3 linked regions of the Homo sapiens genome follow. The protein of the gene in region 3 interacts with the protein of the main gene of each other region in a biochemical or structural test. Each region holds a gene or a part of one and is shown on either strand. Other genes may lie near its edges. The genes, in order: PALS2, GOPC and KCNJ12.

Region 1 (3,658 bases), on a different chromosome or scaffold from region 3:
AATGGTATGTTTTAAATGTCTTTATCTCTTAGATATAAATACTGAAGTATTTACAGATGACATGATATCAAAGATTTGCTTCAAAATAATTCAAGGTGAGGAGGAAGTGGGGAGGGGTCTAATTAAAACAAGAAATTGCCACGATTATTGAAGCTAGGCGATCGGCATAGGGACTCATTTATTCCCTCTTTTGTATATATTTTTGAATTTCCATTAAGTAAAAAAGTAGACAGGAAAAAAAGGAAAAAACATGTAATAGAAACTAAACATCAGAACACCCCACTTTACCAATGATAAACCATATAATAAACATGCCTGTTAATGATCTCGGAGCCCAGTTACCCCACTAGTAAAATGAAGGCGTTCAATTAATACGCATATTTTAATATTGGTCCATTTCATTTTACAAAGGGGAACTAAACTTTTGATTTAAAATAAAGTGTACAATGATTTTCAAGTAAAAGAATACTGTTCCAGATCCTAACTACATCTAATTAATTTTCATTCTGTAGCACCTTATATAGCATGTTTATTTCATAAGCATAATTAGCTAAGAGTTGGCCAGGCACGGTGGCTCACGCCTGTAGTTCTAGCACTTTGGGAGGCCGAGGTGGGCAGATTGCCTGAGGTCAGGAGTTCAAGACCAGTCTGGCCAACATGGTGAAACCCCGTCTCTACTAAAAATACAAAAATTAGCCAGGCCTGGTAGCGCATGCCTGTAATCCCAGCTACTTGGGAGGCTGAGGCAGGAGAATCGCTTGAACCCGGGACGGGGAGGTTGCAACGAGCTGAGATCGCATCAATGCACTCCAGCCTGGGTGACAAAGCAAAACTCTGCCTCAAAAATAAATAAATAAAAATAAATTAGATAACAGTTAAACATGCTCAAAAGAAAAGGAAAGATTTTAGAAGGAAAATCGTATGGTTAGCTCACGGTCAGAAGCTTGGTAGTGATTCCTGCATCCACCACAGCCTTGTGCATGGCACGTAACGTCTCTAGCTCCGGAGCCGCAATAAATACCACATAGGGCATAAACTCTGATGTCCTCAATACTTTCAGTGCCTGTGTAAAAGAATAATTATAAGCCAATTTATACAATATTAGAACTAGAATTCTGCTACCCTTTAGTATATATCAAAGGCTGTTTGCACTTGTTCTATGAATTAAAGGACATAACTTAATACTTATCCCTGTTCTGTCCTTCTCATTCCATATAGTACTTTCTTAAAACAGTGATCCATTTATTTTGTTTTGAACTCAGTCTGTTCCTCTTGAACAAAGTATAAAACAATGATCCAAAAATCATCAAGAGTGATGTAAACTCTTTTTTATGTTAATTGTAGAATTCTGTTAATACTCAAAAAGTAGAAATAACCTCAATGTTGATTAATTGGAGAGTGGTTAAATGAATATATATTCATACTATATAGCAATTACAAAGAAAAAAAGCTCTACAGTAACTACCACAAAAAGATCTCCAAGGAATAGTTCTATTTAATAAAACCCCTGAAGAATCTATATAGAATTTTTCCATTTATGTAAAAAGAAACAACAAAAACAGAAAACCCATTACCTTATATATATTTGTATTTAAGGCATAGTGAAATGACTAGAAAGAGACATAAGAAACTATTAACAATTTTTATCTCTGAGTAGGGACGTGAGGTTGGGCTGAGTGTAGCGGAGTGGGAAGGGGTAGGTGACAGAAATATAGAGTGACAAAATGAATAGTGTAGAGGTGTGCATGTGTGTCAGGTAGGAGGGGGAGTGACTTTAATTTTTTATTCTTTATATTGCAGACTTGAGTTTTAAACTTAACATTTCTTAACACAAGCACTTATGCATTACTTGAACAGGTAAATAAATACATACTAAACTTCTATTGTAGATCTAATCACACAGTTTCTATTGCCACCCAAGCCTCTGTTGGCTAATTGTTCAGAGATTTATTTAACTAGCTATGTATACATAATAACATTCTCTATCACCCAAAGGTAATGGAGGGAGTCACCTTTCCACCCTGACAAAACAAACAACCCCAACCCAACAACCCCGACACACATGAAAAAAACTCCACAGAAAATAAAATATAAAACAGCTTTGGAATCCAAGCAGCTTACTTGTGGGTTGACATCCAGAATGCAAGTCCGTCCAGTTTGGACAACCTCAAGAATAGAATCAATTTTGGTTCCATAGAGATTTCCTTCATATTCCCCATGTTCCAAATACTTTCCAGCTTTAATATCTGCTTCCATCTCAGATCGTGACACAAACTTATATGCCTGGCCATCTTTTTCATCTTCCCTTGGTTTCCGTGAAGTAACTAAATAAAATAGTGTTGAGATTTTTGTACAAAGAAATTTTAGGGCATAAAAAATAGACTAAAATACATAGGGTGGCTTAACGTTTTTCCACTGGGTGCAGCAAACTGTAGGCTATGACCAGATCTGATCTGCTTCTTATTTTTGTAAATAAAGTTTTATTGGACCACAGCCATACTCATTTGTTTATGTATCATACATGGTTTCTTTCCCATTAAAATGGTGGTAGTAATTGTGACAGACTGTATGGACTGCGAAGCCTAAAACTTTACCATGTGGCCCTTTAATAGAAAAGTTTCTTGATACCTTAGGGGAATATTTTAAGAGGTAGTCCCCCAAATAAAATTTGTATCCAAAAATATGCTTCTTAAAATCACTTTGAAACTCAAAGTATATTTACCTAGCAGCAGAGCCTTCAATGAAGTTCTTAATTATGGTAAGTGTTTGAGGCATGTTGTGAGTGAGTATCTTTTCAACTGACCAGCACTCTCCTTCTCCTTAGGAATCTATTACATCTTTTCTTTCCACATTAACACTTCCTAACTGCCCCAAAACGTGAGCAAGCAAAGTTCACCTGTTCTTAGTTGTGATACCAATTTTGTAAAGTGCAGTTTTACCCACAAATTATCTATCTTTTATCTTACCTCAAAACCAACGCTTTTAGCTTCCTGTTTATTGATATTCCCAAATGTTAACTGTTCTATTTTATACTTCAGTGGTAGAGCTAGACGCCTCATTATTATTATGGTCTATTAACCTCCTCTCCTCTGACCTGACATATTATTTCTGGGAAAATGAGATTGAATAGCTCAAGTCAAAATTTAGAAGTAGGAGATCCTTTTGTCTGATATTTTACAGCTTTGAATACTTTCAGAGACATACAACCCTTTGCAAGTTGGTCTGTGCTAGGAACGGTTATTACCATTTTTTAAACTGTTGCAAATGTGTACTCTCTGACAACTTTGTTAACAACAGCTTTGAAGAAGAAAAGTAATTTTTGAGCGTGTTATTTCAAGCTTAGCCTTACTCTGGGCTTTGCTGGATCGGATATAAGAAGTATCCTGTTTCTATTAGCTAAGTAGTTGGAGAATAACTGATGGAATTATTAACTACACCAAACTAAACTAAGAAAGTAATCCGAATAAAAAGATGACAGTGTTTTGACTATTTCTAATAAGCCTAAGACATAGAAAACTTTTATAAGAACAAAATGAACTTCAAACTCATGCTCAAAAATAAGGGTCAAATGAGATCATTATGTATAATAGGACTCCTGTTTTCCCCTTGTTTTCTGGCTCAACCTTGAGAGTGGTCGTCTTAGACTACTGTGAAGAGT
Region 2 (2,529 bases), on a different chromosome or scaffold from region 3:
AAATGTGACTCAACTAAAAATTTGTGTGTATATATCTTTTAACTGACTCACTTAAAAAAATGTATCTATTGGTTATTGTTTCACACGTCTATACTTTATAGATATATATATCACCTAAATAGGTGATATAGTCAACACTTATTTATTTATAAGCCTATTATTTATTTTATAGATGATCAGAATTCGTTTTAAGTTTTAGCTAGACATCATCTTGCCAACAAATTACATTTTAAGCAATTAACTAGTATATGCCTCAGTTAACTGAAGTTAATGTAATATGAAAGCAACAATGAAAAATAAAAATATAATTCACAGTTCAGTAGATATTTATATAAGTAGAATTGACTGAATTTTACAATTATATGTATTACTTCTAAGTCTTACAGACAGCTTGATGGTGGCTCATGCCTGTAATTCAAGCACTTTGGGAGGCCAAGGCAGGAGGATCGCTTGAGGCCAGGAGTTACCAACCTGGGCAACATAGTGAACCCTGTCTCTTCAAAAAAATTTTTAAAATATAGCTGGACATGGTGGCACATGCTTGTAGCTCCAGCTACTCAGGAGGCTGAGGTGGAAGGATTGCTTGAGCCTAGGAGGTCAAGGCAGCAGTGAGCCGTAATCATGCCACTGCAATCCAGCCTGGGCAATAGAGTGAGACCCTGTCTCAGAAAAAAAAAAGAAAAAAAAAAAAGGAAAGGAAAACTTGATAGGAAACTTAATACAATTTTTACATAAGCCCAATATAGTATTTTTAAATCTGTACAATATTTGATACCTGCCATAAGAGGGAAGAATTCCCCTGTTAGGAATTACTGATTTGATTAATATAAGGCATTATTTTTGCCTCAGATTACTAATGTTAATTACTTGGGCATTCCTTTGTTTTTCACTCAATAAACTTATACAACTAACTTTTTTTTTTTTTTTAATTTTTTTAATCGAGACAGAGTTTCACTCTGTCACCCAGGCTAGAGTGCGGTGGTACGATCTCAGCTCACTGCAACCTCCACTTCCTGGCTTCAAGTGATTCTCCTTCCTCAGTCTCCCAAATAGCTGGGATTACAGGCATGTGCCACCATGCCCGGCGAATTTTTGTATTTTTAATAGAGACGGGGTTTCACCACATTGTCCAGGCTGGTCTCGAACCCCTAACCTCAGGTTATCCACCCACCTTGGCCTCTCAAAGTGCTGGGATTACAGGTATGAGCCACTGCACCTGACCAAAACCAACTTTTTAAACCAGAAAGTGTCTGCTTTTTTTTTCTCCTTTCTTTCAGGATTTAATAAGAAGGCAGTAACTGACACACATGAAAATGGAGACCTGGGCACTGCAAGTGAAACTCCGCTAGATGACGGTGCTTCAAAATTAGATGATCTGCACACTCTGTATCATAAAAAATCTTATTAAATTGACCATATCTCCAGACAAGATTGTTAATCAGACTATTCTGAATTTGGGGCACTGGGGAAGATGGTGACAAAGACTACAAAATCAGGGGAGGCTGTTTGTTGCCTAAATGAAAGGCGGGTACCTCAGGGCTTCATGTGAACAATTCTCAATGCATAAAACACCCTGTTTTCTGTGGTAGACCATAATTAGCTATTGCATGTAAAGCAATTTTGATTTTCTTGAACTTGTAAGCACCAAAGCATGTGTTTCCCAAAGGGGTATTACTGGGCTCTTAAGTACCAAATGAAACCCTACTGTTTTACTTGGTTCCTTTTCCCTTTAGTAGGAGGACAGTGCTAACTGGAATTTTATAAGGAGTACCCTTTAAAATACAGAGAGTAAGTGAATTCATATTTTATATTCTAGAATGTTAACTGTGGTATTTCAGAAGACAGAGCTTGACTCAATGAATTGTAGAAATATAGGCTTGACTTAATTTTTGTAACTGAAAGGCTTTAGACTTAAAAAAATTTATTGTGCATCCTAAAATCTAAACCAATTATTAATGATCATTTATTGTAATGAGTTTGCATTTCAGCTTTATTCAATGCAGTACAAAATAGTTTTCTTTAAGCAGTCTTTTATCAATCAATGCTGCACTAGAAATAGATTCTCAAAAGTTACTAAACATTTTACTTTTTTTGTTTTTTAAAAGAAATGCAGATGAGTGTAAAACATCTGTTCTCAATTATGTTGATCTGTGTGCGCAGTACTGGAGCATTTACCCATTCATGTTGAGCCTCAAATGCTTGTTTTCTGGGGTCCACAAAAGACAGTTTTATACATTTTGAGTTGTTCATAAAGTTTGTCTTGTGATAGTCCTGGCACTTAAAGACAAATTTTTCTGGTAGTAAAAGTTCAGATTTATTACTATGTCATGAAACACAGTACATTCAAATCAAACGGCAGTTTTCTTTCTAAGTAAATGATTTCCAGTCATCTAAAAGGTGGGCAAGATGAGATAAAGACATTTTGATACAGTAATTGTTTTGGTTGGGTTTTCATGTCAGTTTATGTTTGACTAAAGCTCTCTTCATATGCAGGTTTATAAATTTGTTAGGTCTGTTGTCCCATGATTA
Region 3 (3,658 bases):
CAAGGCTGCGCCCCAGCCTTCCTCCGGGAACTGTGTGACCTCCGGCTGTGGGGACCCTCTCTGGCCTCAGGCTGCCCGCTCCCACAGTGGAGGTGTCACGTCGCACCCTCCTGTACACCCTTGGGGTGGAGGCAGGGAGGGCTGAGAAGTATCCCTGCTGCCAGTCCTCATGTTACCTGGTTTCCTTTTCTGCCCCCACTCCCCAGGTGAGCCCCAGGAGACAATCTCCCATCCTGGCACACCTGGCTGCACACCTGGCCAACCGGGCACACCTGGCTGAGGCCCAGGACCAGAACCTATCTGCTCCCCACAAAAGGGGCCACCAGCCCTGTCTTTTCTGAGGCAACATGGACATCCAGGGGAGGAGGGACGGGCAGTGCTCAGGCAAGCAGAAAGCATGCCAGTCTCTATAGTTGCAGAGGTGATCACTGCTGGCCACTAAAGCCGCTGGAGTTGATCATTGCAAATCATAAACATTTTTAAACATTTTATAACGTGGGTGTCATGTTCCAAAAAAAAGACTGGAAAGGAGAGGTGAAATGCATTGACATGAAACTCAATGACCGTGGGGAGTCTGGAATGCTTAACTGGGCAAGAAACAGAGACACTGTCCCCTCCCTGCCAGCCCCATCCCCTCAGCCGCCCTCCAAACATGTATGCTGAAGGCAGGAGAAAGGATTCAGCCATCAGCTGAGATATGAGAGGCCCCACGCCCCAGGCCTCAGTTTGCTGGGATCTGCAATGGGAACGGCTTGTGATCCTCAGAAGGAATCAGATGGGGACATCCTGAGCTGAAGCAGGCCAAGTGCTAGAGGACACAACAGGGCTTGGAGCTTGAAGCAGTGAGGGTACAGATATAAAGCACTCCACCCAGAGTAGGGGCCTGAAGGAAGCCCCAACTCCCTCCCACTCAGCCAGACAGACAGATGGCAGGCCAAAGGCTCAGAGAAAAGGTCAGAATCCAGCTCTGTCCACCAACAAGCGCCACAGTTCTTGGACAGTGACCTCTCTGAGGCTCAGTTTTCTCATCTGCAGAATGGGCTGACAATGCTGGCTACCATTGCTACCAAGCACTCACTGCATGTCAGGCACCAGGCCTGGCTGAAGCAGCCCATTCACTCTCTGTGTTTACTGGGCGCCTGCCATCTCCTGCCTACCGCTTAGGCACTGGGGACACAGCTGTGGTAGAATAGGTCCAAAAAGAGGAGATCCTATTCCAAGGGAAAGATAGACAGTAAACAAGATCAGCAAATAAAATATATTGTGGCAGATAGCATTAAGTTCTACAGAGAAAAATAAAGCAGGAAAAGGAACATGGGGGAAAGGGAGGCTGCAGTGTCCCACAGGGGAATCAGGGGAGGTCCTGGAGAGAGGGTGGCATCTGGGCAAGACATGAAAGCGGTAAGGGAGGGGCCGTGCAGAGATCTGGGAAAGAACATTCCAGGCAGAGATAGCAGCATGTGCAAAGGCCCTGAGGTAGGAGTGGGCCTGATCTGTTGGAAGCACAGCAAGGCAAGCAGGAGCGTGGCCCCGGGGAGGGAGCAAGAGTCCTGGAAGTGAGGCCAGACTGTGCAGGGCCCTGAGGGTCCCAGGGAGGAGTGTGGTGGGAATCGACAGAGGGCCCTGACACCCAGAGTGCACCAGGCACATAGAAAGTGCTCAAGGAACAATGGCCCAGAGTGGCTCTGGTAGAAGCCTCCACTCCATAAGCTTTATTGTTTGTTCCCTGGCCCCTCTCCAAGCCTGAGTCCTTCAAAGAGGCCTGGGCTGCAGGTGAGGGCAGGAGAGGGAGGCTTTGGCTGCCCAAGCAGGAGGGAGGGCTCAGTCCAGGTGGGCAGGGGGAGTCAGGCAGGATCCAGGAGGCTGTGCCCACTGACCCTAGGACAGCATTAATGCACAGCCAAGGCGGAACTGCTCCCTGGGGCAGCTGAGAAAGGGGTTCCCACTCCTATCTGGCCAAGCAAATGGAACCATGTCCAATGATGCATGGCTGAAGGCTAATTAGAGGGCTGGGCGGGGGTCCCCAAGGTCTCCACAGCCTCATGCTGCCACTTCAGCAGCCAGGCAGGAAGGAGTGAGCTGTGGAGCACCAGTGGTGGTGATTGGGGTTAGGGGACACTGAGGACACACCAGGAAACAGGAGGCCTGCACTGGGGCCCACTGCCATCTGGGGCCCACTGCCATCTGGGGCCCACTGCCATCTGGGGCCCACTGCCATCTGGGGCCCACTGCTACAGCAACTCGCTGCCCTGCCCTGGGCCTGCTTCCCTACATGTCCAAGGGAAGGTTGGATGGGGAAATGACGAGTTCCCCAGGCTCTGGCTCCACAAATGCTCACACCCCCTCCTTCCCAGATCCCCCTCTCCACACGTCCATTTCTACTGAGACCAGCCCCTCCCCACCCCCAACTCCCAGAGGCACGCTCCAAGTCTCACATTCCTACTGCCCCATCCTGAGCACTCTCCGGAGCCAGTCCCACTTCACAGATGATGAACTGAGGCCAGGAAGAGTGACCCCATCTTGGTGGCAACATCTGCCTCTCTTGCCCCCCTGAGTCTGTCCAAGAGTCTCCTCTGAGATAGTGAGATCCCTGAGGGCAGGGGCTGGGTCTCCCCGTATGCAATGCCCATTGATTAAGCACTTCTGTATGGCTACCCAGCACAGGGGCCACAGCTAGGCAACAGGGCCTGGGGTCTCCAGCCCCAGAACTCAGCCCCCACAGCTCTCACCAGCACAGCAAGGCCTCTGTGGCTGGAAGAAGCAGTCCAGACATGGAATCATCGAGCATTTACTGGGCACCTACTCTGTGCCAGGGCTTAACTAGGTCCTAGGAATACAGCTCCCGGGAGCTGGGATGGCATGCAGGCCTCAGGCCCTGTGTGGGACCTGCCTGGTGGTAAGGCAGGGAGAAAGCTAGCCTGGCAGTCAAATGCCCCTGAGGGGTGTGTCTGTGGAATGGGGGAAGGTGCAGTTCTGTCCCTGGGAAAGCACCAGGGCTCTGGGTCTGAGCCCCACAGGCTGGTGCCTCCAGTGCCTCCCTGGGCCTCCAATCCCTGTCTGCACAATAGAGCTAATGCCACCCTCTGCACTGGCAGGCCATTAGGAAATTAAGTCAGCTGACCCAGGGCTGGGTCCTTGGCCAGTGCCCAGCGGGGGCTCTGGTCCTGCCCCGAGCCCAGCACCTCAGAAAACCCACCTGCCTCTGCCAGGCCCCCCCCCACCCCCAACCCCATGGTGCCTCTGAAGCTCTGGCCAACCTGCACACGGCCCAGTTTCAGGCCAGCTCTCTTTCATCTTCAGCCTTTCCCTGCTGCCGTGTCCCCATCACGCTGCCAGTTCCCGGCACAGCCATCCCGTGGGGCTGAGCCCCCACCCACCGCACCTTCCATGTGGCCAGCCAAGCCTCCACCCCTCCTGCTGCCCGCAAGCTGCCCCCTCCCTGACTCTCCTCCACGCTAGCCGGTGGCAGGGCTCCAAGGGCAGGCCCGGGGAGGGGCAGGTGTACCCATGTGTCGCTCACAGTAAAGCCCTGGCCAGGGCCCAGCCACAGGCACCAGCTGCACCTGTTGGAGGAAGGGCCCAGCCCAGAGCTGGGCCTGGGAGCAGGGGGGGTGAGGGTGGCCACTGGGTGGGCACCGTGTGTACCAGTAGCCTTCTG

Evidence for each region.
Region 1: the proteins of KCNJ12 (region 3) and PALS2 interact in a test that uses a peptide from one of them, tested with the Homo sapiens proteins (one large-scale study listed by IntAct).
Region 2: the proteins of KCNJ12 (region 3) and GOPC interact in a test that uses a peptide from one of them, tested with the Homo sapiens proteins (one large-scale study listed by IntAct).

The regions. Positions count from the first base shown.
Region 1 is NC_000007.14:24,677,797-24,681,454, reverse strand, and holds part of PALS2 (protein PALS2), read right to left. Parts: intron 2,325-3,658; coding exon 2,122-2,324; intron 1,064-2,121; coding exon 935-1,063; intron 1-934.
Region 2 is NC_000006.12:117,562,133-117,564,661, reverse strand, and holds part of GOPC (Golgi-associated PDZ and coiled-coil motif-containing protein), read left to right. Parts: intron 1-1,277; coding exon 1,278-1,408; 3' UTR 1,409-2,529.
Region 3 is NC_000017.11:21,379,356-21,383,013, reverse strand, and holds part of KCNJ12 (ATP-sensitive inward rectifier potassium channel 12), read right to left. Parts: intron 1-3,658. UniProt on the Homo sapiens protein: Inward rectifying potassium channel that probably participates in controlling the resting membrane potential in electrically excitable cells. Probably participates in establishing action potential waveform and excitability of neuronal and muscle tissues.